2 separate regions of the Homo sapiens genome follow, and region 1 is linked to region 2. The links come from fine-mapping of genetic effects on gene expression. A gene starts in region 2. The other region holds a variant in brackets. All regions are shown on one strand. Distances are from middle to middle.

The links. PIP is the estimated chance that this variant, and not a neighbour inherited with it, causes the effect.
Region 1: its variant is the best candidate, but not a certain one, in a credible set for the expression of ICOS in whole blood (INTERVAL, PIP 0.60).

The regions. Positions count from the first base shown.
Region 1 is chr2:203,956,850-203,959,663 of GRCh38, forward strand. ICOS (inducible T cell costimulator) reads left to right here. Exons shown (of 5, transcript NM_012092.4): 4 at 950-1,034; 5 at 2,737-2,814. The coding sequence ends at 2,750. Among named protein-coding and RNA genes, the nearest start is that of ICOS, 21 kb to the left of the region's middle. The variant C/T (reference allele first, on the strand shown) is at 1,377.
Region 2 is chr2:203,935,324-203,938,137 of GRCh38, forward strand. It overlaps ICOS (inducible T cell costimulator), which reads left to right and starts at 1,440. Exons shown (of 5, transcript NM_012092.4): 1 at 1,440-1,549. The coding sequence starts at 1,492. It overlaps LOC101927840 (a long non-coding RNA gene), which reads right to left. Exons shown (of 4, transcript XR_427213.4): 2 at 1,994-2,065; 3 at 785-878.

The DNA.
Region 1 (2,814 bases), 22 kb after region 2:
GTCAGAGTAATTTGACCAACAGGGAGACAATTCCTTCCCCCCAAGACATACCTACTAATTAAACTAATCACTTGGAACAGAAATTTATGTATTTGTTTTATAGCCCACACATTCCAAAGAGGACTTGACTTGATGGCTTACAGAGAGTTACATTATTATTATTATTGTTCAAACTAGATGAGGAAATTGAGGTCAAGAGAAGACTAAAGGTCAGGAGGAAGGTTAAAACATCAAAATAGATGACTCTGATTTTTAAAAAATTATTATGCATGGGCTGCGAATTTGAATCCAAGGTTCCTGAGAGGCAGGGCAGAGATGAAACAATTAGTTATAAGTTTTGCTTAGCTGGTAAGTTAAAAACAGTCAGCAAGAAAGCCTTCTAAGGTGTCAATTGTAGCTGAGAAGGAAATTGACAACTTTTTTACATGGTAGGTTATTAGACTCCTTGCTTTTAAAGAAAACCACTGAGGAGCTATTTAGAAAGATAAACAACAATGACAACAACAAAAATCTCCCTGTGCTGGGGGATATTCTTTTTGGTCTCTTGCATTACAGGTTCTCAATCAAAGAACTGACACCACTCTGCATATTACGCGAGTATGCTAGTACTCAAGTATATCCACAGTGTGGTCATTGGCCAGTGTATATCTGTGGGAGAGTGGAATTTGGAAAGAGACATAAAGAAGGAAGAGAATGAGATAGCGCCCATGGTCTAAGTCTGCTGGGAAAGAAACAATAAAGGCAAAAACGAGGAAGAAAGTTCAGTAGAAAGCTCTTTTTATGTAAAGCCCTTTTCATATTGTTTTTCTACTTAGCCTAAAGCCAGGAACCTAAGTCACATTATCATGTTTTTGTCACATACCACTTCAACAAAGAATAGAAAACAGTCAAAAAACAAAGAGATGGAGAAGAAAAGATGACCAAGCATGTTTCTGGCTTTTTCTTTCAGAAGTATTCATCCAGTGTGCACGACCCTAACGGTGAATACATGTTCATGAGAGCAGTGAACACAGCCAAAAAATCTAGACTCACAGGTATGACTCCATTTGGGGGTTTGGGAAGGGAAGAGGTTTCTTCACAGTAAGCCTGGAATGTTAATTTTTTTTTTTTTAATTTTAAAGGAAAGGAAAACATCTCCAAGGCCTAATTCTAGAATTTTCTGTGAAAATCTGGATTTCTCACTTTTAACTAGATTTATATTTTCTGCAGTATATTGAAAACAAACAAGCAATAGGTTTGTAAGCCACTATTGAAACTAAACACACAAACAGCTCATAAACCACCATAGTATCAAGGCAATTTTCCCATTGATGTTTCAAAAGTTGGGATGATTCTAAGTGTTTTTTGTTGAAGGGTTCATTCAGTCATTCAATGAG[C/T]GTTTATTGAGCATCAGTTAAGTGTGAGTTACTGAGTGAGGCACTCTGGGGAATTTGGACAGATATATGCTAATTTTGGACTGAGATTAGGAAGAGAGATCTGTGCTGGTACTGCTAGAGGGAAGAAGGAGAAATTGATGAAGATATCTGGTTATTTTGAGGTAAAGAGTGTGCAAGTTTAGAGAACTTGGATGGCTTTAGAAGTCTCAGTAACATGGAAATTTGACCTTTTCTGTTAAGAGTCAGAAAACTGAAAGTTGCCAAGTTTGAGGAGCACCCAGAAAGTTTGAAGCTTCCATTGTGGAAAATTCATGTCTTATGCCCTTGAGGTTCGAATGATGTGCGATGTGTAATGAGACAGAAGCCACTGCATTTTTCCACCCCTCAGTGGCTACAGATTATCTAAAGGGGACACACATAGCTTGCGTTGTCATGGAATTATAGCATGGGATGGGAGCTAAAAAGGATCCTTGAGTTCACATTTCATGTTTTAGATGACAGAAATTGATGCTCAAAGTGTTCAGTGACTCTTTTGGTTCCCTAGACAGTTAATACCTAGCTTTGACACTTGCAAAGAGCTTATGTTTCATTACTTTGCTGTTTAAAAAATATATGATCTCTCAATCTCTTTGCTTAATGTGTTCTGGCTGTTTGGATCCCCACAAGCAGAACCTGACATAAGGACTTGGGTGCAAGTAGTTTATTTGGGAGGTGATCCCAGGAAGAAGGGGTGAGGGGGCAGGGAGAGTGAGACAGCCAACAAGGAGAAGCAAATGAAGGGCGCATTATTATCAAGGTCTCAGCTCCAGGCCACAGAGGCCTGACTTCATTGGACCTCTGAGAAGTGTACAGATGCCTCCCAGAATCATTCTCTTGAAGGATGGCAACCACTGGCTCCATCCTCACTGATTTGGGGTTGCCTGCGGAGGGCATTAGCTTTCCCTCATCTCTGAGCTGTGCCTCTACTTGGGATGAGCCTACTTGGGATGAGTCTTCAGAGAAAGTCTGGAGGCAGAAAAGCAGTGAAATGCAGTGGGGCTGTTGTGCTAGAACAGTCAGCCCATGCAGCGCTTTCTGCCCCAGCAGCAGCTGCAATCAGAGGTGGACAGTTTCAAAGTGATGAGTTTAGATAATGTCTGTTATAGGAGTCGAGAGCTAAACTTCTCTGGAAATGGGGAACTGGTGCTGGGTGTTGAAGCATAAAGATGAGTTTGCATGGTGTGTGTGTGAGTGTGTGTGTGTGTGTGTGTGTGCACGTGTGTGTTTGTGTGTATGAAAGGCAATGGAGAGGGGAAAGCTTCTTGTAGGGAACTGGCACATGGAGAGCATTTAGATAATTTATGCTGAATTTTTGTTACAGATGTGACCCTATAATATGGAACTCTGGCACCCAGGCATGAAGCACGTTGGCCAGTTTTCCTCAACTTGAAGTGCAAGA
Region 2 (2,814 bases):
TCAAACAGCTTCCTTCACACCCACTGCTGAGACCCAGGAGCCCTACAGAAGGTAGCTAGGGGAAGCTTCAGCAGCTAGGGGGATCCCTGCAGGATCAGCCTCCTCCTTACCTTGCAGACCCCTTGGCTGTGGTCTGGCATTCCTAGTGGCTGGCCTAAAGCCCCAAACCTGGAATCTGTTTCAGAGCCTGGACCTTTTGGACTCACACCTTGGTTTCCCTGGCCAGCTGATTTCAGCTTCTCATCTAAATGTCATTTCTGCAGGCTAAGGGAAGTCCAGCCTGGATCTAGCATCTTGGAAGCGCGTTCAGACTTCTGGATGGAGGGATCAGCAGGCCTTGGTATTGGTGGTTCTACCTGCTTCGGTTAAGAGTGAGGACTCTGGAGCCAGACTCTCTAAATCATAGCACTGACACTTACTATATGACTTGGGCCAGGTTCGTTACCTGTCTGTGCCTCAGTTTTCCTCATCTGTAAAATGGGAGATTAGTGGTCACCATTGGGATGATTAAGAAGATTAAATGAGTTAATGTATGTATAAACTATAGTTATAATGTAAATATATATACAAACAGTAACCATTTACATGCATATAAAACATAATATAAATGTAATATTAGCTATATTCATATATAAAAATAGGTATATTTTATATATAAAATATATTACATTTAATTTTTTACATTTTGCATTAAGATATATTATTTCATATAAAACATTTAAGTACATATACATATAATTATCTATGTAATTATTATTGTTATTGTTGTTATTGTCTACTTTACCTCCCTGCAGGGATGGGGAGACCACGGCAGGCTTTTAAACATTCTTGGTCTCACTGAGCCGTAGGTGAGGAATCCCTGGTTCCTACAGACTCTGCTGTAATATGAGGAGCAGGGTTTAAGTTAGTTTAAAACTGACCCCATCATTTGAAACATTGCAATCTACAATGAATGCCACATAAATATCATTTCTCAGATTCCTATGATGCTCTTCTTTCAGATCTTTTCACTTCAATTTCTATAATAATTTTGTTTGTTTCTTGTCCTATTTCAAAGGCTTTCTTATCTCTGGAGCACCTAGCATAAGATAGAAATGTGTCAAAATATATGTTTTATTCATCATGTGAGTATTTTTAGGTCCTGTTAACCCCCATAACTATTGATTCAGAGAAGTAGGGTGGTTCTGAAAAATACAGGCATAATCTCTTTAACTTGTTTTATAGGAACCAGAATAAGGGTAATGTTTTCCTCTGTCTTCAAAATCATCAATAATCCATGCATTGTTTAACTCATGTCATAAGCAATAATGCCTTTCATATAGCCATTGGCATCAAAGAAGAAACACCCCCTTGATTTGATGGTAAGCGTGACACTACATAAACTCCCAGAAAACCCACTTCCTTTCCAGCAAATAGAAAACAACCGAGAGCCTGAATTCACTGTCAGCTTTGAACACTGAACGCGAGGACTGTTAACTGTTTCTGGCAAACATGAAGTCAGGCCTCTGGTATTTCTTTCTCTTCTGCTTGCGCATTAAAGTTTTAACAGGTAAGTGGTGTATTGAATATTTCTTATTAAGTTATAATTCAAGTAAACATTAAGAAAAAGCAAAGGTAGAAAAATTACGCACCCAAAAGACAGTGGTTTTGGTTTTTGAAAGTAGGAATAGTTTCAGGATATGGCCAAGGGCACCATGTCACTCATGTCACTGTGGATGGCATTGAGTTTGCATTGCTGCCTTTGATACTGTGTCTTGAGATGAAAAACATGTTTCATCAGACCATTAAATTTTTAAATTACCTGCTTGGAGTTACCTGTCAGTGGATAAACTAGCAGAGTGGCTTACTGTTCTTAGAGAAAGATGAAAGGCAAAATGACTTGTGTCAACAGAATGAAAATTAAATAGCTCTGGCATTTGGACTGGGAATTCTTTCTGTGGTAGAAAATAAAATGGGAAGTCTTTGAAAAGAAGGATTTTGATTTTAATCTTACCTGGATGATCTGTTATCTGAAATGTCCAGGGCACCATAGAGTTTTTATTGACACTAAGTATCAGAGTTCACCCTAAAAAGCCAAGGAGGAAAGGATAATGTAAAAATACTTCCTAGCCCCTGTAGACCTTACAAAAAAGATCATTCTGGAGTCCCTGATTCCTTCTCTTGAATGGCATATAGCAGACTCTATATGGACAATTTAAATAATGCTACATACAATGTAAGTTAATACACGTGTTTCTGCTGCTTTTTACTGTATATAATTTGTACTACTTTTGTTTTCTCTTTCACACTGAGCCCTATTCTTGAGGTTGAAAAAAGGAAAGTTAAGTAATATTAAATAACTTAAATAATCAAATAAACTAAAAGTGAAGGCAGAACTTTTAGTAGGTATGATCCTATCTAGGGATACATTTTTTCAGTGGCAAAAAAATAGACCTTACTGTTCTTACAAAAAATGAAAAAAAAATGAAATCAAATTGATCAAATGTTTCATCTTGTGCTGGCTCAAAGTGAGTTAAGTGCAGTTAAGAGGATTGAGGAATGTAGAATGAGCACAAGGACAGTTTTGGGCTACTTGCTGGTTTATGCCTTTTCTAGAATCTCATGAAGTCCTTTAGCGGCATGAATGACATGAGCAGCTTTGGAATTTATATTCATTCTTCATTCATCCATTTACTCATGTAGCATTGAGCACCTGCCTGGTAGCAGGTACTGTGCCAGATGGTGTATGTACAAGGATGAGCAAAACCAGGTCAACCCCTGTTCTTTGGAAGGTAACTGCATGGTAGAGAGAGATATATTAATCAAATAATCCCA